3 linked regions of the Homo sapiens genome follow. The protein of the gene in region 3 interacts with the protein of the main gene of each other region in a pairwise test. Each region holds a gene or a part of one and is shown on either strand. Other genes may lie near its edges. The genes, in order: LYN, UNG and CD36.

Region 1 (7,112 bases), on a different chromosome or scaffold from region 3:
CAGGCTTCTCAGGACTGCAAAGTGGCACTGGAGACAGGGACATTGACCTGCCACTTCTAAATATTTCAGTGGTAGTGTTATATCCGTTTGACTTTACCAAGAATATACATTACTTTTACACACACACACACAAACACAGATCTGCAAATCTGCATTCCTATTCCAGATATTCAGATGCATTGTAAAAATATATGCAAAGACAATATATATTTTTCTCTTGGTAATTGTGGAACACTGAATGTCAAACAGCATGTACTAGGTGGGAAGGACTGGGAGAATTATTCACAAGGATCAAATCTTACTTTGTGTATTTAACTGTAGATTAATTAATTGCTTTTATTTTAGTATTTGTTTTTTGAGACAGAGTCTTGCTCTGTCACCCAGGCTGGAGTGCAGTGGCGCGATCTCAGCTCACTGCAATCTCCGCCTCCTGTGTTCAAGTGATTCTCCTGCCTCAGCCTCCCGAGTAGCTGGGACTACAGGCACGCACCACTATGCCTGGCTAATTTTTTTTTTTTCTAGTAGAGATGGGGTATCACCAGGTTGGCCAGGCTGGTCTCGAACTCCTGACCTCAAGTGATCCACCTGCCTTGGCCTCCCAAAGTGCTGGGATTACAGGCGTGAGCCACTGTGCCTGGCCTAACTATAGATTAATTTAGAACCACTTATAGAATATGACCTGCAACTGTATCTAAGAGAAATACGATGCATAAAAAGTTTTAATATAAAAATAGCGTTTGACGTCTTATACATATCATAACAAATATATCTTGTCTTGTTGAACCTTCAGTTTTTACTTACTTTGGTAATGTTTAATCATGTCGCTGATACAGGGAAAAGTGATTCGTGGAGAGATGTAATAGCCCCCATTATCCAGACTTCTAATTTTGTAGTGCTTAATAACATCACCATGCACAGGGTCAAAGTCTCTGACAGACAGAGAGAAGCTTCCTATGGGGGGAAAAGTGTAAGTAAATGTTTATATCTCACAAATAAGATCTGCATTATACAACAACTGCAGTACACATTTTGTGATACAAATATGCAAAATACATATATTTATGAAATTTGTATAAAATGCATAATTTTAAAAGTCCTATAAAAATTCTACTTGACAAATGAAGCTGGCATTTTGTTTGCTGTGTAGCTTGCCAACATACCATTTTCTTTCTTCATGATAATTTTTTTAAAATTATTATTTAGCTACATTTAAATTTTTTTAAGTTACTTTGATTTTCTTTTTTTTTTTTTTGAAATAGGTTGTTGCTCTGTCACCCAGGCTAGAGTAGAGTGGCACAATCATAGCTAACTGCAGCCTCCACCTCTTGGGCTCAAACGATCTTTCTACCCCAACCTCTCAAGTAGCTGAGACTACGATCATGCACCACCACAGCTGGCTAATTTTTTAATTTCTTATAGAAACAGGCTCTTGCTATGTTGCCCAGGCTGGTATCAAACTGCTGGGTTCAAGTGATTCTCAGTCTCGGCCTCCCAAAGCATTGGGATTACAGGCCTGAGCCACCACGCCCAGCCTAATTTTCTTTGTCTTAAAACTTCAGGATTTATTCAAATAATAATGCAAAAGGCTCAGCAAACAAAGCCTGGTAAGAACTGGCCACAATCATGTGTGCTTTCTACAGTACTTTTCTTTTCTTTTCTCTTTTTTTTTTGAGACAGTGCCTCACTCTGTCACTCAGGCTAGTTAGAGTGCAGTGGCGTGATCACGGCTCACTGCAGCCTCCCTTCCCTGGGTTCAGGTGATCTTCCTACCTCAGCCTCCAGAGTAGCTGGGACTATAGGCATGTGCTGCCAGGCCTGGCTAAGTTTTGTATTTCTTGTAGAGATGGGGTCTTGCTGTGTTGCCCAGGCTGGTCTCTAACTGCTGGACTCAAGTGATCCTCTCGCCTCAGCCTCCCAAAGTGTTAGGATTACAGGTGTGAGCCACCACACTCAACTATATTACTTTTAGTAGCACAACTAATCACTGAGGTTTGTTATTTGTTATCAAACCATAAAACTTTTACTACCAGAGCATACTATATGCCCTTTTTTCCCCTTGAGTAGCTCTAGAATAGTTTCTAAAAATAATTTCCTAAATAGTGTTTTAAAAGAGGCTTTGAACAATTTCCTACCTTTTAATGTTTCACTTTCTCTAATAAGGAAAGCTCCAGCGCTATTTCCTGGTGCCAAAAGCTGCCTTTCTGCGTCCTTCCTGGTTATATCCTTGAAAAACCACCTGTGAAGACATTTCAACATTTCCTGCATATTATGTTCCACGGCAAGAAAAAGGTGAAGAATATTAACAAGAAATCCAATGTGGCAAATAAAGCCACCAAGATGACAACACATGAGGACTCACTCTTCTGTTTCTAAGGTGTTGAGTTTGGCCACATAGTTGCTGGGGATGAAGCCTTCTTTTTTTGTTAAAAGGGACTTTGCTTTCCACCATTCTCCATGCCTAGAATAGAAATACACATCAAAAAGAAGCTAAAAGATTACATACTCCATGCATGTATCAAAATATCACAGATATCCCATAAATATGTATTTATGTACAGATATTACATATCAATTAAAAAATTAAAAATAAAGAAAACATAGACTTACCACAGGACCCAGCAACTATACTCCTTGACATATACCCAAGAAAGATGAAACCATAATGTCCACACAAAAACTTGTACATGAATGTTCAAAGCATCCTTATTTGTAAAAGCAAAAAGTAGAAACAACCAAAATGCCTATCAACTGATGAATGGACAAAATCTGGAATATCCATCCAGTGGAGTATTACTCAGCAGTGAAAGGAATGGAGTGCTGAGAGATGCTACAACAGGGATGAACTTTGAAAACATTATGCTAAATAAAAGAAGGCAGTCAAAAAGGACCACATATTGTATGATTCCATTTATGTGAAATATCCAGAATAGGTCAGTCTTCAGAGATAAAAAGTAGATTCGTGGTTTCCTAGGGCTGCAGAGAATGGGAGAGTTGAGGTGACAGCTAAGGGGTGCAGGGTTTCCTTTTGGGGTATTTAAAATGTTCTAAAATGGATTGTGGTGATGATTGCACAATTCTGTGACTATACTAAAAAAATCACTGAATTGTACACTTTAAGTAGATGGATTGTATGGTATTGTGAATTCTCAATAAAGCTATTAAAAAGAGAGAGAGAGAGACAAAGAAAAGAAGCCAGGAGTGAGGGTTTTGAATGTTCACAACACAAAGAAAGAATAAATGTTCCAGATGATGGATATGCTAATTACGCTGACTTGATCCGTACACACTGCATACATGTATCAAAATATCGCTCTGTATCCCATGACTGCATATAATTATTCCATGTCAACTAAAAATAAAAGGAAAAAAGTGTTTATATCCAAGACTCAACAGCTACAATAGCAATTGTCTCAAGATGTTTGTTTAGGATGGTGAAGGCGGGTGGAGAACATCTCTGGAACCCCAGAATCCAGTGGGAAAATTCACTCTCCGTGATGGAATTAAAATATGTTTAGAGACAGAAGCAAAGGAAAACAGCCTTACAACTAAAGCACGCATCACTGCGATCAGGGGTGCACAAAGAAGAGTTGGTACAAATGGCTCCCATCTCACAGAAACAAAAGGTTTGTAACTTGCCCCAGGATAGCTAAGAAATGCTTTCAAATCCTTATAGAAATGAGAGTCAAGGGAATACTGGTCCACAGTTCATGCATTATAAACTCCTTTGTTCAAACATCTAGTTATCATAGAGATGGACACTATGAAAAGAAGAAAACCATAAGACAATTCCAAGCAAGTGAGCTTCAGCACCATGCTCGAGTCCTCAGCAGAAAGGCAGGCATGGAGCCAGGGAGGAGGCAGGGATGAGCACTGGAAGAAGCAAGCAGGTAAGCTGGTAATGGGGGAAGGAATGGGTCCCTTTGAGCCTTAACTGCATTCCTCTATAAATTCCACACACAGACAGGATCCTTGTCTGTAAGGCATGAAGGCAACTAGAACTAATACTAAGCTCTGCATCCTCTTTGCTTATGTCATGTTTAAACACATGCATCATGCTCACATCAACCCCATGATCTAGGTACTGTCATTCCCATTTTATAAGTAAAGAAACCAAGGTATAAAGTTTAAGGGTCTTGTCAAGGTCATACAGCTATCAAGTGGCAGGGCCAGGATCAGGCTTAAGTCCCTGTTCAACCCATATGCAACATTGCTCTCAACCACGGAACACCTTGTCCTTAATAAGGGAGTCTCCCCCTCAAACCCTATTTGGCAGGTCACAGTGACATTTAATGCAAGATTAGTAAGAAAAGCAAGCTAGAATTAAAGCAACTGGAGTTTCTTATTCTGAGCACTGTCCTGCATGCCTATGGTCTGACACTGCCACATGTCTGAGTCAGCAAGAGGGGGTTGAGGAGATGACGACACTCAGGCGTCCTCACAAAAGCATGGCAGCTGCTGAGTTGAGAATTTCCCAACACAGCTGCTGTAGCTCAGTACCCTTAGAACTCAAGCTAGGCTGGGCCCATGAACCCAGTCTAAACATGAGTAATATAACAAAAGAAAAGTGACATTTCAAGTATCATGCATGGGCCACACAGACCCAAATTTCTTAAGGTGGCAAGAGTGGATAAAGAAAGAAACCAGGCTGGGTGTGGTGGCTCACACCTGTAATCCCAGCACTTTGGGAGGCCAAGGCAGGAGAATTGCTTGACAGCAGGAGTTCAAGACCAGCCTGGGCAACATAACAAGATCCCATCTCTACAAAAATTTTAAAAATTAGCCAGGCCTGGTGGCACATGCCTGTAGTCCTAGCTTCTCAGGAGGCTGAGGTGAGAGGATTGCTTTAGCCTAGGAGTTCAAGGCTGCAGTGAGCTATGATCATGCCACTGCATTCTAGCCTGGATGACAGAGAGAGATCCCATCTCAAAAAAAAAAATTGTTTTAAAGAAAAACCACTGTCTGTCTTCAAAGGGAAACCCCCTGAAGTGTGCTCACAGACCGACTTAAAAGGAAAATCCCTTTGGCTCTATTCCTTCCACTGCCCACTCCCTGTGGGTAGCAAGGAGGCCTCATACCCATTACAAGAAAGGGGCCGGGCTATGGCTGTAGCACCAGAAGCAAGACAAGGGGACAGCCTGCAGGACTCAGTGGCCTGAGGAAACGAGCAGCCGTGGCGTGCTTGAGAGCACTTACTCCTCCAGGACTTTCATCTTCTCTCCTTTCTTGAAAGACAAGTCGTCCGGGTGGATGCCATCATAGGGGTACAAGGCTACCACAATGTCTCCTTGTTCCTCTGGATCTAAAGATGAACACAAGAGAACACCTGTAAGAATCCATCAGCAGAAGCGTTTTAACAAACCTCATGGGGCACAAAGGATGAGAGGAAGCACTAAGAGGGGGCAACTGGAAGAAGGACATGTGCTTCCTGCCTAGTGGGCTCAGGGTCTGCACGGCCCACAGAGAGTACCTTGCTGTATACACTGTGTCCAGTATTTGTTCTTGCAAATCACTTAAAACTAAAACTATAAATACAACTCTATATTTAAGAAATTATACACCCATGTTCACAGCAGGATTATTCAAAATAGCCAAGATGTGGAAATAATGCAAACATCTATTGATGGAGGAATGGATAAACATCATGTAGCATTTTGGTTTTTCTCTTTTGAGACGGAGTCTCGCTCTTGTCGCCCAGACTGGAGTGCAATAGTGCAATCTCGGCTCACTGCAACCTCCACCTCCTGGGTTCAAGCTATTCTCCTGCCTCAGCCTCCCCAGTAGCTGGGATTACAGGCGCCCACCACCACGCCTGGCTAATTTTTTGTGTTTTTAGTAGAGACGGGGTTTCACCATGTTGACCAGGCTGGTCTCGAACTCCTGACCACAGGTGATCTACCTAACTTGGCCTCCCAAAGTGCTGGGATTACAGGTGTGAGCCACTGCACCCGGCCAGGGCATATACTTACAAGGAAATATTATTCACTATTAGAAGGAAATAAATTCTAACACTTTCTACAGCATGGATGAACCTTGAGGACATCAGGCTAAGTGAAATAATCCAAACACAAAAGGACAATTACTGTATGATTCCACTTCTAGGAGGTACCTAGAGTAGTGAAATTCATAAAGACAGAAAGAGCGGAGGTTGCCAGCGGCTGGGGGAGGAGGCAATGGGGACTTATTGTTTAATGGGTATGGAGTTTGAGAAGATGCATTCTGGAGATGGAGGGCGGTATTGGTTGTACAACAATGTGAATGTACCTAATGCTGCTGAAATGTATACTTAAAAATAGTTAAGAGGGTAAATTTTTATGTTATATATGTCCCACAATAAAAAAAAATAAAAACATTTAGGACAATCACTTTATAGAAGCTCTAATAGTAAAGAAAAAAAATTTTAACTATGTTGCTATGAAAACATACCTTTAGTTTGAAACCTCTGTCCAGGTAAAAGCTGAGATTCTGGAACCTACGAGAGAATATTTGTTAGAAAAAAAAATTCTGTTTAGCTTTTCTTACTCACATTCGTGTTGTATATATGATTTTTGTAACAGTAGCAGATGTTAGGATGGGCTCATTTATTAAGTCAGAAAGAACAGGAGCACAGAGGGAAAAACCTGTAGAGGTGCATCCTGCCCTGCTTGGCCAGTGACAGGGCTCTTTATCACTTGCTGTGGGTGGCAGGAAGGGAGCGAGGTTCTGGGCAGGTGCCAGGTGCTCACCTCATCCTAGCTCCTCCTCTTCTTTGGTGACAGAGCCCTAATATTATTTGGGGTGGCAGTTTGCCCAGCTCAATGAGTGTGCTTCCAAACTCTCTAGCCCCGGGCAGAGGGCAGAGGGAGTTTTGGTCCGCAGATCGGTTGTGCAGGGCTTTGCTGTCAGCTCCCCTTTTCCCTTGCCTCTTTCTCTCTCCCTAGAAACAAGTGAAGGCTGGAGTCTTCACATAGAAAGCAAACACCAGCGGCAGCAGGATGGAGACGGAAGAGGTGGGACCCTGGTGATTTCGTGGAGTTGCCGTCCCAGCCTGGGACTGCCCATCTGAGGCTTCCCCAATTGTATAAAATTGCATGGTCAGGGCTCTGTCCCTGGAGGCTGAGAGCAAGTCCCATCCC
Region 2 (7,112 bases), on a different chromosome or scaffold from region 3:
GGAGGGGGAGGCTGCAGTGAACTGAGATCACGCCATTGCACTCCAGCCTGGGCAACAAGAGTGAAACTGTCTCAGAAAAAAAAAAAAAAAAAAAAAAAAGAGGAATAGTCAGTGGCCAGGTGTGGTAGCTCACGCCTGTAATCCCAGCACTTTGGGAGGCCGAGGCAGGAGGATCGTTTAAGTCCAGGAGTTCAAGAGCCAGCCTGGGCAACGTGGTGAAACCCTGTCTCCACAAAAAAAAATACAAAAATTAGCCAGGTGTGGTGGCGCACGCCTGTGGTCCCTGCTACTCAGGTGACTAAGGTGGGAGGATTGCTTGAGCCTGGGAGGTTGAGGCCGCAGTGAGTTGAGATCAAGCCAGTGCATTCCAGCCTGGGTGACAGAGCTAGACCCTGTTTCAAAAGAAAAAAAGCAATAGTCATACATCACCTAATGACAGGGATGCATTCTGAGAAGTGTGTTGTTAGGCAATTTCACTGCTATCCGTACACCACAGGGCATCTTTACACAAACCCAAATGGGATAACCTACCACTACACACCTAGGCTATATAGTGTAGCTTATTGCTCCTGGTCTACAAACCTGTGTAGCATGTTACTGTACTAAATACTATAGGCAACTGTGACACAATGGTAGGCATTTGTGTATCTAAACATAGAAAAGATGCAGTAAAAATATTTTTTATATATATATATATACACATATATATATACGTATATATATATGTGTATATATATATATGTTTTTTTTTTGAGATAGAGTCTCACTCTGTTGCCAGGCTGGAGTGCAGTGGCATGATCTCAGCTAACTGCAACCTCTGCCTCCCAAGTAGCTGGGACTACAGGCACACGCCGCCACACCTGGCTAATTTTTTGTATTTTAGTAGAGACAGGGTTTCACTATGTTGCCCAGGCTGGTCTCAAACTCCTGAGCTCAGACAATCCACTCGCCTCGGCCACCCAAAGTGCTGGGATAACAGGTATGAGCCACCACACCCGGCCAGAATATTATAATCTTATGGGACCATCGTCATATATACAGTTTATGACTGAAACATCATTATGTGGCAAATGACTACTTTGATTTTTTTAAAATATCAACTATAGTTATTTTAACAGGGAGATATAGACCATTTTTGTTTTCCTCTTCTTTTCTGTATATAAAAACTAACGAACAAATCACTGTTTCTCAAAACACTCTTGCCTTCAAGGGGCTCAGTCCAGGAGGGGCGATGAGGGGTGAGGACTAAAGCCAGGCAATCCAGTGTGGTTAAGAGTACAGAGCCTGGAGCCAGACTGCCCGGGGTCGAGGCCTACCTCTACCCTCAGTAGCTGTACCACAGAGAAGTTGCTGCAACTCTAAGCTGCTTCAGTTTTCATCTGTAGACTGGGAATAACAATACCGCCCAGCTTATGAAGTTACTGTGACCAATCAAATGAGGATCACAGGGGCTGAGTGTGATAAGAAGTCATGCACACCAAATGCTGAACACACACGCAAGCAGCACAGGCCCCTGTAAATGTCAGCCCTGCAGAGCTCTAAAGAATCCCAGAAGAAAATGACCTCTACACTGTAGGCAGAGAAAGCAGGATATGCAAAGGCAGGGAAGTGGGGCACCGTGAAAAAGTAAAGGGGAATGGGTCAGCCTAGGGATCGGAGTGCAAAGAGGGATAGAGTTAAGTCTGGGAGGCCGATTGGGGGCCACCCCTCTACCCCCCTGAAATCAGATCTTCAGCCTAAGGCAAGGCCTTCCAGGGAGAAAGCATCAGAACCCTCCAGGCAAGATCAGGTGAGGGCCTGAATGAAGGCAAAGGTGGTCAGGCAGGGGTAGATTTGGAGGGGGAAGAAAGAACACAGATATGAATGACTGACTGACTGGGAAGGTGGAAAAAAAGGACAGAAGAGGGGAGAAAGAGAGGTAGGCAGGTGTCAGTAATAGATCTGGCTGGACAACTGGGCAGATGATGGTGCTTTTTGCTGCTAGGGAGTGCAGAGGAGGAAGTTTAGTGAAGCATGGATGAGAAAAGGAGAAACTTCGTTTGGAAAATGTTGAATTTGGCATGTTCATGGGGCAGTAGTAACAAGGCACTCTATAGATCAGAAGAGACACTGGGCTGGAGATATGCAATTTGGCTTTAATGACCAAGCTACTTTAACAACTGTTTACTTTCAGACCAAACCATGATTAAAGATTACCAATATACTGCGGAAGAGCAACACTGGCCGTAAACCTCCCTAAGGGATAGAGATTAGCAATTACTCTCACGCACACTTCTTACATACCTAGATGATCACATCTTAGCAGTTCATACCAGTCAGATCTTAGGTCACTCATACAAGTGTATGCCTACCTCAAAGCCTTTCTGAGAGTTAAGTAAGATTCTGCATGCAAAGTACTCAACCTGGTCGGGTGCGGTGGCTTACATCTGTAATCCTAGCACTTTGGGAGACCAAGATGGGAGGATCGCTTGAGGTCAGGAGTTCAAGACCAGCCTTGTCAACATGGTGAAACCCAGTCTCTACTAAAAATAAAAAATATTAGCTGGGTGTGGTGGCAGGCAACTGTAATCCTAGCTACTCAGGAGGCTGAGGCAGGAGAAGTGCTTGAACCCAGGAGGCGAAGTTGCAGTGAGCCGAGATCATGCCACTGCACTCCAGCCTGGGTGACAGAAAGACTCCATCTCAAAAAACAAAAGTGCTCAACCTAGTACCCACACAAGGTAGGGGTTAAATATACGTGCACATTTCTGATACCCCCGTTACCTCCTGCTGATACACCAAAAACTATTGTCAGGTTACCTCTGCTAAGCCCTTGCCTTCGATCATTGAAGCATTTACTCTATAATTTCTCCCCCACCCAATGTCTCTCCCATTTGCCAGGGATGAACACACCCCTGGCTCGTCTCCTTCCCACCCCCTATCTCTCCCTCCTCCACTCTGCGGCTCTCCATCAAGCCTCCATCTCTAGTCCATCACGGTTCTCCTGGAGAAAGATGATGGTGACTCATGCCTGAAGGGCAGCAGTGGCGAATGAGAAGCAGTAGACTGGGGTGTTTTGGGAGGCAGAGTTGATGGGATTTACTGATGGGATGGAGGATTCAAGGATGACTTTTAGGTCTCTGATTTCCACAACCAGGTGTAGAAGTGCTTCAGTGAGTGAAGGGAAAGAGGGAGGTAGCAGATAGGGGGAAGATGTAGGGAGGGGAGCCACTGGTTTGGTCGTGTTGGGTATCTGCAATTAGACCTTGGGGTTAATAATGATCACCGATAGGCCGGGTGTGGTGGCTCATGCCTGTAATCCTAGCACTTTGGAGGTTGAGGAGGACAGATCGCTTGAGGTCAGGAGTTCAAAACCAGCCTGGCCAACATGGTGAAACCCTGTCTCTACTAAAAAATAAAAAAAAATCAGCCGGGTGTGGTGGCGGGCGCCTGTAGTCCCAGCTACTCGGGAGGCTGAGGCAGAATCACTTAAACCCAGCAGGCGGAGGTTGCAGTGAGCCAAAATCATACCACTGCACTACAGCCTGGGCAACAGAGCGAGACTCCATCAAAAAACAAAAAACCCAGAAACAAAACAATAATGATCACTGATAGTATTTTCATGGGCAAGTTAAATTTGTGATTGAGTGGAATTCTTTGTGTTTTCTATATGTTCCCAAATTTCTTGGAAGCCAGAAACATGCCTCATCCATCACTTGTTAAGTGAATGGTACCCAGGGACTTGTATCTTGTAGACACCAAGTTCATGCCTACAGCACCAACTGCATTCAGTCACAAGTTGGCCAGTTGCTTTGCTTTCCTCATACACAACTCATCACCCCTATAATTTGTCCAAATTCTTCTCAGTTTTCAATGGGAAACCCTTATAACAGGCCTAAGGGAAAATAAAAGTTATTTTATAACATGGATTTTCCAGGACCAAACACAGCAGGGACTCCTAGAATTCTTTACATTGTTTTTATAGTGTTAAAAAAAAAAGAAAAAAAAGAAAGAAAACAAAACATACCCTATCAATGGCACTGCCCTTCTTCTGAGCATAAGAGCCCCAGAGCAAGAAAACAAGGCCATTCGAGTTCTGATTTAGCCAGGACACAACTGCATCAGTGAACTGCTCCCAGCCTCGCTCCTTATGAGAGTTGGCTTGATGGGCACGAACCGTGAGGACAGCGTTGAGAAGGAGAACACCTATACACATGAGAGAAACAGGTTAAATGTAGGCTCAGGCAAATCAGCCCAATACCCAGCAACAGGAGCTAAATCCATGATGAAACCAATGCTTGATGGGATCCAGTGTAGCAAGCTGTGCTTCCCTGCTGCAGCCGGCATAATGGCAGCAGCCACTACCATCAACAATGGAGTCGGGGCTGGGCGTGGTGGCTTATGCCTGTAATCCCAGCACTTTGGGAAGCCGAGTCGGGCGGATCACCTGAGGTCAGGAGTTCGAGACCAGCCTGGCCAACATGGTGAAACCCTGTCTCTACTAAAAATACATTAAAAAATTAGCCAGCTATGGTGGCTCATGCCTGTGGTCCCAGCTACTCAGGAGGCTGAGGCATGAGAATCGCCTGAACCTGGGAGGCAGAGGTTGCAGTAAGCTGAGATTGCACCACTGCACTCTAGCCTGGGCAACAGAGTGAGACTCGGTCTCAAAAAAAAAAAAAAAAAAAAAATCTAGCAGTCGCTGGCTTACCTTGCTTGGCCCACCCAGATAAATCTCCATGGCCAGGATGAACAAAATCCTCTATGTCTGTAGACAACTCTTTATAAATGTTCTCCAAACTGAAAGCAAGCCACAAGAAAAACAAAAAACAGAATCTTAAGCATAATTTTGAAAGCTCAGTAACGTCTAAGACATATGTGAAAAGGTTAGAAGTTACAGCCAGCCCTTGGAAGGGACACTGGCACATATGGCGCCGATTAATGAGATCAACACTGCCAGTCCTCCTTCTAACAGGTGACTCTGCCAAAGACCTTTACTTTAGTCTGTACTTGGATTTAACAGCACTCTGGAAAACCTAAGTAAATCAACCCAGCAGTTACAACCCAGACCCCCACTGTTGCTCAGGGACAGTTTTCTGTCCTTAGCATATTTATGTATATCATACACCAAATCCTCCAAAAGCAGTGGTTCTTTTTTTTTTTTTTCCAGTCTTGCTGTGTCACCCAGGCTAGAGTGCAGTAGCAGGATCTCGGCTCACTGCCACCTCCGCCTCCCGGGATCCAGCGATTCTCCTGCCTCAGCCTCCCAAAGTGCTGGGATTACAGGCGTGAGTCACCGCGCCCGGCCCAAAGCAGTGGTTCTTAACCAGGGGTGATTTTACGCCCCCAAGGGACTTTTGGCAATGTCTGCACATTTTTCATTATCACGAGCTGGGGGTTGCTCCTGGTTTCCAGTGGTAGAGGCCAGGGATGTGGCACAAGATCCTGCAATAGCACAGGACTCCTCTCCTCCTCCACAACAAAGAATGACTCAGCCCCAAATGTCAATGGTGCTGAGGCCGAGAAATCCTCCTCCAAGGCTAGTGAACAGTGCCCCAGATAGTCCCACTTGTAATAAGCTAAGTACACATCTGAAAGGAATCATGTCTGGACTGCAGTCACCTGTAAAGCAACTGTACCTGGGCGGAGGCGGAACAGGCCTTTGAACACTAAAGCAGAGCCCGTGAGCTTGATTAGGTCCATGATATGGATCCTGTCCCAGGATGACAACCTTCACCTGTGAACCACCAGGGGTCAGGAATTAAACAATACTGTAATGTAAGCAGCACAGACCCTGCCTCAAACAAACATAAACAAAACAAATAAAACACTTCTATGGCATAGATTGCTAATAGCAGAGTTGCTGGTCAAAGGCTAAGCGTATTTTAAACTTGTAAAGATATGTACCTAGCTGCTTTTTTAATTTTTTGAGACACGGTTTTGCTGTGTTGCTCAGGCTGATGTGCAGTGGTGCCATCACAGCTCATGGCAGCCTCGCCCTCCTGGGCTCAAGTGGTCCTCCCACCTGAGCCTCCAGAGTAGCTGGGCCCACAGGAGTGCACCACTATGCCCACCTAATTTTTTTTTTACTTTTTGTAGACACACGGCCTCCCTTATGTTGCTGAGGCTGGTCTCAAATTCCTGAGATCAAGGGATCCTCCCTCCTCGGCCTCCCAAAATGCTGGGATTACAGGCATGAGCCACTGTGCCTAGCCCCCAGTTACTTTTCGATGAATTAAAGCAATTTAGGGCCTGGCATGGTGGCTCACGCCTGTAATCCCAGCACTTTGGGAGGCCGAGGTAGGCAGATCACGAGGTCAAGATATCGAAACCATCTGGCCAACATGGTGAAACCCCATCTCTACTAAAAATACAAAAATTAGCTGGGTGTGGTGGCGCACACCTGTAGTCCCAGCTACTCGGGAGGCTGAGGCAGGAGAATCGCTTGAACCCAGGGGGTGGAGGTTGCAGTAAGCCGAGATTGCACCACTGCACTCCATCTCAAAAAAAAAAAAAAAAAAAAAAAAAAAAAGCAATTCAGATTTCCCACCAGCAGCATATGAGGGTGTCTGCTCCCCTATATCCTCTAACAGGTGGAGCCAGAAGAGAATGAGGTCAGATCAAAAGGGCCATGGGAGTAGGTGGCAAGAGACAATGAAATGAAATGAAGTTCCTGTCACGGGAGGTGTTGAAACATAGGCCGCCTCGTCCTTCCCATCCAGGGCCCACCCACCTAGTCTTCATTCTCAAGCTTCTGCCATTGCGTTCTTAGAATCTTCCTCCACAGCTGACATACTCTATCTTTCAGAATCCAGCTCCAGATGTTCCATGACCAGGAGGCTTTTGGGGACCTCTTGTCCCTCCCCTTGGTGTTCACACCATGCCAACATATTCTCTTGTGAAACAACTCTCCCAATGCTGGTCTGTCAAGAAGCCCTGCTGGCCCATCTGATCCTCATAGGTTTGAAACTGGTTTTTGAGCATTCCCTCAAAATATTCCTTTTAATATTCCCTGTTTATACTGATTACTGGTATTCAGAATAGGGCATTCAAACAAGAAGCAAATTAGTATTGATCTTAATAGGATTTAATTTAGCTTCAAAACCAAAGAGCTAGATTCTAAATTCTTACTC
Region 3 (7,112 bases):
AAATGATGTCCATTTGCAGGATCAGTGACAAAATATTTAAGCCCATAAAGAAAAGAGTTATACCTGCTGTATGAAGGTATTCATAGAGAAATATGAGTCATAAGCCAATTATTTATAAATGTCTTTCAAAATATTTGGTGCACATGAAATGCAGTATACTGATGGTCCTGGAGACTGTTGCAGTTGAATAGGGCAGCTACTGGGATGATGGTGTTTCCCCCGGATGAGGATGACAGGAATGCAGGGCCTAGGATTTGTTGAGCATGTACACTCTTCTTCTGAATTGGCCACCCAGAAACCAATTATTGAATCAGAACAACACAAATTGGTTTGTGCTTGAGCCAGGTCTGTAGAAACGGAAATCAATTCAGTTGTGGAAATGATGAATTTTAAAAGCTGCTGGGTTTTTTTTTGTGCAAGGTAGAGATTTTCATAACATCTCAATAATCCTTTTGAAATGTGCAGTTGCTTAGTGCAAAAAAAGAAATAGTGCCACCATTTCTTCAACTAAAAGATAAGGTGTGCTTTGTAAAAGTAAAGCATATCCAATTTTCATCCTGTTGGTCGGTATTACCAAGGGTCATGATGTAGCTGGCGCACAAATGTGAAGAATCATTTACTACCTGTAGAGTGGCAGTATATCTTAGATATCATACTTTTTATTAATCAGTTCAGTTTCTCTAGCTGCAGAGAGAAGTTCTCTAACGGACTTCACCAATAGGGCAAAACACATTCCCATTCCAGAAAGGCACATAAGAAGGGTGCTTCAAGACAAGCACACACCAGGCAAGGAACGGTAGCTGAAGTGCATCTGCCCTGGACCAGCATTTCCACACCCTTCAGACCAAGTTCCATTTAAAGGTGTATGTACTACTTTCAAAAGGACCATTGGGTTATTTTCTTGTGACCCCCTGAGTAAAACCACACATTAAAGCTCCACCGTCTTACACTTTGCTACTTCTTACATACCTGTCTTCTTACTTGTTCCTATTGTTTACAAATCTGCCCAAAGATATAATTTTTATGATATTAAGAGCTGAATTTTGCTTAAGAAAATCTACATATCTTTTGTGATTCTTCTAAATCTAGTAAATCAAGTAATCAACAGTTTATTCTCTGCTTGTAAAAAAGGGTAGTAATTTTTCCACATAAAAATCAAATATATAAGCAAAACTAATATATTTGTTGACAAAGTTGCTCCAGCAAGCCTTGAATTTTTCATTATAATTTAGCTATAAATAGACCCAAGGAATCTGACATCCAAGGATCATTAAGCAATCATAAAAATGTATCACATAATTTTAATTCTGAATACTTACTTACAAAACATGTTTATAACTTCTGCATTTCCTTTTATTAAGCATGCTTTCCCATTAGGACAAGTTTTTTTGTTATTTTGTTTTACTTTTCAGCGGATGATCTATTACATAGTCATACAAATACCTTTGTTTAGTCATAATTTGTCAGTAGGCTACTGACAGGTATTGAAGGTAATATTTAACTTTTTATAATGTGAACATTTTAGGCTAGCATTTTGAAGCCATTCTGTCCAAATAGTTTGGATGCAGAATTATTGTCTTTTTGGTGACTAAATAGTGGTAGAAGTGATTAGAACCAAAAATTAGGTTGCCTTTTCAAACACAAGCTCTCCATCTCACAAAAGGAAATTATTGGTCCCCAAATTCCACTTTCACTGATTTATGCTTTGGTCACAAACAATTAAAATGTATGATTTCATGGAACATCTCTAGAAGATAGAATGGATGCTGATGAATCCAGGCTATTGGAAAATCATGAAATTGTATTAGGGATCATGTGAGATAAAGAATCTTTCTTTAGCATGGTACTGGCACACAGTAAACAACTAAATAAGTTATTATAACACACATACTGCTTTTATTTACATTGCCTTGAGGTGGGCTGAAGAAAAATAGGGAGAAAGTAAAAAATTCTCCCCCACAGGCAACACCAATGTTACCTGTGATAACTAAAAAAAGGTTTTCCTTTAGGAAAGGTCAGGCATTCATTCATCTTTAAGAGTGCATGGACACTAATATCTAAAGCATAGAGGCCTAAACTCTTGTACACCACTCTGAGTACTTGGTTCTACTATGTTGAACACTATTTTCCCCTATTTCCTGATACTATTATATTCAAATTTTTGTTCAGGACTTTTCTGGATTTGGAAAATGCACGGCCAGCATGTCTACATGCAGCAATCCTGGTCTTATGAAACCATTTCCTAGTCAATTATTTTTAAGTATCAGATAATATATAACTAGCTATATAATTGAGAAATGAACCAGTCAATTTTGGACAACTTTGGCACAAGTGCTTTATTTGTGCTATTGTTACAATGGTCACAAGTACATCTTTTATCTCATTTCTCCCAGAATTAAAGATATACTTTAGTGATCTGCGTGATAATATTTATAGGTTTATTTACCTATATTTAAAAATGATCAGTGGCTAGACATGTCTAGAAATATATATGGCCTAATATGTAACTTCTCTTTGATAAAGTGAAAACAAGTAATATATAAGCTAATATTATTGAAGCAATATTTTTTGGTACATACTTACTTATTTTATTGTTTTCGATCTGCATGCACAATATGAAATCATAAAAGCAACAAACATCACCACACCAACACTGAGTAAGATCATTTCTATCAGGCCAAGGAGGTTTATTTTTCCAGTTACTTGACTTCTGAACATGTTTGCCTTCTCATCACCAATGGTCCCAGTCTGTAATCAAGTTAATAATCAACATTATTTGGGTACGTTAGTAAAACAAAATAAACCCTTCAATTGCCTATCACCCTTTTTTCTAACACCTCTATTGGTGTTAGTCATCAGTATCTATAAGGCAAGTTAATGGAATTCCTTTTGCAAGTCAAGAAAGGCAATTAAGTGCCAGATAGAGTACGGTACTCTTCAATGTACTAGGATTCATTTGCTCTTCAGAACTATCAAAGGGTCAACAGTTTCATTTGCTCCAAAGACTTATTCAATGTTTTTCCTATTTTTATAGCTATCAATGCATGGATTTATAGTAAAAATACCTTGTCAGGCAATAGAAGACAAATGTTACAACAAGAAAATGTGTTTAATAGATGCATTTTTGAAGAAAATCTTAAATGATAGGAAATGTTTTTGTTCAATTGGATCATCTCAAATAGGTTAAATAAATGTATACTCATCCATATGGGTAATGGAAATACATATAGCTTTAAATACTATACATTCTTTTGAAACATCAAGAGCTTGTTTATATACAAAGAAGGTTGTTTTTAATGACTAACAGCTGCAAATACAAACCTCATTAAGCCAAAGAATAGGCACAATATAGTTCCTCTTCAGATTCTTTAATACTCTGTAATATACGTTGAAAATAATTATGAACATATAAACTAATATTTATATATAACAAACTTTAAAATAAATGTTCATAAATTAGTTGCTGTTGCTAATTTGATTTTGTTCCTGTAATGACTCATTTAAATTTTAATATAGTTGTTTTTGACTTCCTTTGCTCTTATATGTCTTCTAATCACATTGATTTTTTTTCACAAGTGTGGATTTTTCCTTTCAATAAATTCTCGGGGAACTGAAATATGAATTCCAAAAATTAATTATTGTCATAGAAATATTTGGGCAGCTAACAAAATAAGAGATGCTATCAAATGCTCAAATAAAACCATAAAACCATTCCAAAATCTGTGAAATTAGTCATAAGCATTTAATAATGATTGGTGACATTAAGCTAAAGATAAGTTGATATCAGATGTTATTTCCACTTACTTACATAGATTTACTCATGTTCTTACAAGAAGATACTACGATACTACAGATCATATCAAAATAACCATTTTCAAGAGACTCACTGAATTTTTTCTGATGGCTTGACCAATAGGTTGACCTGCAGCCGTTTTGCAAATTGTAAAGTGAATCCAGTTATCTAAAAAGAGAACAACTAAATAATTACCAACTTTTAAAAACATTATTTTATACTATTCAAAACTTATTTTTCTTACAGCAGAAGAGAAGGTAGTAACTTAAGGTTAAACAGGACTAATTGAAACTTTTAAAACTGCATATATAGTTATAGTTATATACACATGCATCCATATAGATACACACAATTTATTTGCCCAATCGAATGTCAAGGTTTTAGTTAGTTAGATTTGTGAGTTACTTGAAATGGTTTTTAAAAAATCAAAAATCAGCAACAAAATATAAGATCTCAGATAATTCCTGGTCAAATATATATTCAGTTAGAATCCATGTGTCATTGTTTAAACTAAAACATAACTACTAAAATCCTAGAATTTCATTTACTTTTTGAAAAGGAAAATACAAAAATAAAGATGATTAAAACTGTTGCGCTACAACAATTTTATAGATTTTGACAATAAGTATAGTCAAACTCACATATACTCTTTGACTTTTGCATAATATACAATAACTCCTCATCTAAACATAAATATTTATATAAAATTATTTTAAGCCAATTAGAATCACTTCATAAACCATAGGAAGAAATCGACCTAAGTTTCAGTAACTTTCAAGAATGTGATTCAATAAATATGATTATTTATTGAATAAATAATCATCGACAAGATTATTTTTATTTCAATTGTATTTTTAAAAATATCAACCAAATCAGATCAATAAGGTGTTTTCTTACAGGTTCAATATCCAAGTATGTCCTATGTTCTTCTTCATTTGGGTTTAATCCATCAATAGGTTCTGAAACATCAGGACTTGCATACAGAAAATGAGGAAGTGAAATGTACACAGGTCTCCCTGAAGACAAGTTTTAAGAGTCAATTGGAATTAATAACTTCCTTCATTTCACATATAACTCAAAAAATATTTCCACAAAACTAAAGCTTCTTGCATTAAAAAATACATGGTTTTTAACATGGGTGGGGAAGAATTATGTCAGTTGATTTCTACTATAAACTCCTTCAGTATTAATTTTCAATATGTAAAGCTTTCAGGCAGTAATATGTCTATGGACTAAGAATTTATTTAACACTAGTTTTTTCTTTCTTCTTCCACACCCACGTTAGTATGATAAATATGTACAGGATAAGCTAGTCTCCAAATTTTATGTTTAACTCTAGCTTTAGATACATACTGAAAATACATTTACCTGTACCATTTTCTAGTGAAAAAAGTTAGGACAGATGAATAACAGGATGTTTAATGTGTTCTCGGAATTATTTTCATTTCACCCTAAATCTAAAAGCAGCCACAAGGAAATACTGGTGTGGTTTTAACTAAATTTTGTAATACTGAAACACAAGTGGGATCTTCCCAAAATACAAAATCAGCACTAAAATTTTCTGCCACCATTCTTTCTTCTGCCCTAATTACTTTCTTACTTTAATTTTAAATTTTGGTTGCTAAAGGATTATGGTAAAGTTCTCATTTTAAAGAATATCACAAATTATGATATATTTTAAATTTTGGTTGCTAAAGGATTATGGTAAAGTTCTCATCTTAAAGAATATCACAAATTATGGTATGGACTGTGCTACTGAGGTTATTTACTCACCTTCTTTGCATTTGCTGATGTCTAGCACACCATATGATGTACAATTTTTTGAGATAATTTTTTCTGTGCAGAAACAATAGTTGTCTGGGTTTTCAACTGGAGAGGCAAAGGCCTTGGATGGAAGAACAAATCTATACACAGGGATTCCTTTCAGATTAACGTCGGATTCAAATACAGCATAGATTGACCTAAATACAGAGAAAAAAGAGCTGCATTCCAGGAACCTGAACTTACATTCTGGAGATTCATTTTTTCTTATTCTTGTTTTAACTTAGAAACATCATATACTCTTTTAAATTCTTGTTTCATTCTTAGAAAAAAAGTGATTGGGAAATTTTAACACATACTAAAACTCAATAGCCAAGCATGAACTATTCTTGTTTGTGAAGTACCATGTTTATTTATACTCAAGTTACTTCTCACAGGCAATTTATCCAATAGAGTAAATATTTATAGGACTTCCTTCAAATACTTTATTTGTGATCAGTTTAAATGAAATAGTTTCTTTCACGGCTTAATTAATCCTGGAAAGAAAGACCACTCACTGGAGTGTATGCATATACATGCTGGATATATACCTGGTACATTTCCATCGTTTACCAAGTGTCTATCATAGGGTTCAATACACATATTTTTCTTATCCCCAGATACACGTATATGAAGAAATACTGCTGTCTTAAATTGTACAGATAAGAAAAAAATTCAGAGATGTTAAATGCCTACCCACAAGCATACAGTCTTTAGGGACAGAGCTTGGGCTCAAGGGTAGTGGTAAAGGCTCCAGTGCTTGTGTGTTATCTACTGGGCCCCACAAATCTGAGCAGAGCACATTAACACAGTTCTGTTACATTTGCATCATCTTCTCTGTATGTCTTTAGAAAGATTGGGCACGCCCTTCTGGACTTGATCGTTAATAGACTACTAGTTTAGTTTTTAAAAGGCAAAATGGTTCTTGCTTAGATAGAAATGGCAAAAAAAAAAAAAATTTGTACTATTAAAAATTGGAAGATGCAGAAGAACATTTTGCAAAGAGTTAGTTAATAAACATGATGAATTTCCTATGCTGTGTTTAAGTTTCTTGGTCTGCATTTTGTCACCTGGGGTCTGACTCAGACATACTTATACTTCAGTATCTGTCTTACCTGCAAATATCAGAAGAAAAGAACTGCAATACCTGGCTTTTCTCAACAAAAGGTGGAAATGAGGCTGCATCTGTTTAAAAATCGAGTGGCAAATGATTAGATGTAATGTGTGTTCTAGAAAAAAACCTAGAAATCTCTCCTCCAGTGTAGTCCATAGAAATGTAATGCAAACTGCCTAAGTAATTTATCTAGCAGCCACATTTTTAAAAGGTAAAAAGAAATAACCGGCCAGGCATGCTGGCTCATGCCTGCAAGCCCAGCACTTTGGAAGGCCAAGGCGGGTGGATCACCTGAGGTCAGGGGTTTGAGACCAGCCTGGCCTACATGGTGAAACCCCATCTCTACTAAAAATACACAAAATTAGCTGGGTGTGGTGGTAGGCGCTTGTAATCCCAGCTACTTGG

What was found.
Region 1: the proteins of CD36 (region 3) and LYN interact in binary tests that used the Homo sapiens proteins (3 or more experiments, as listed by UniProt).
Region 2: the proteins of CD36 (region 3) and UNG interact in binary tests that used the Homo sapiens proteins (3 or more experiments, as listed by UniProt).

The regions. Positions count from the first base shown.
Region 1 is NC_000008.11:55,945,805-55,952,916, reverse strand, and holds part of LYN (tyrosine-protein kinase Lyn), read right to left. Parts: intron 6,470-7,112; coding exon 6,424-6,469; intron 5,300-6,423; coding exon 5,194-5,299; intron 2,459-5,193; coding exon 2,360-2,458; intron 2,237-2,359; coding exon 2,133-2,236; intron 952-2,132; coding exon 802-951; intron 1-801. UniProt on the Homo sapiens protein: Non-receptor tyrosine-protein kinase that transmits signals from cell surface receptors and plays an important role in the regulation of innate and adaptive immune responses, hematopoiesis, responses to growth factors and cytokines, integrin signaling, but also responses to DNA damage and genotoxic agents.
Region 2 is NC_000012.12:109,100,506-109,107,617, reverse strand, and holds part of UNG (uracil-DNA glycosylase), read right to left. Parts: intron 5,717-7,112; coding exon 5,619-5,716; intron 4,780-5,618; coding exon 4,691-4,779; intron 4,186-4,690; coding exon 4,007-4,185; intron 1-4,006. UniProt on the Homo sapiens protein: Uracil-DNA glycosylase that hydrolyzes the N-glycosidic bond between uracil and deoxyribose in single- and double-stranded DNA (ssDNA and dsDNA) to release a free uracil residue and form an abasic (apurinic/apyrimidinic; AP) site.
Region 3 is NC_000007.14:80,669,619-80,676,730, reverse strand, and holds part of CD36 (platelet glycoprotein 4), read right to left. Parts: intron 6,779-7,112; coding exon 6,709-6,778; intron 5,755-6,708; coding exon 5,567-5,754; intron 4,810-5,566; coding exon 4,691-4,809; intron 3,962-4,690; coding exon 3,888-3,961; intron 3,377-3,887; coding exon 3,322-3,376; intron 2,749-3,321; coding exon 2,584-2,748; exon of another isoform or gene 2,311-2,583; intron 624-2,310; exon of another isoform or gene 348-623; 3' UTR 1-347.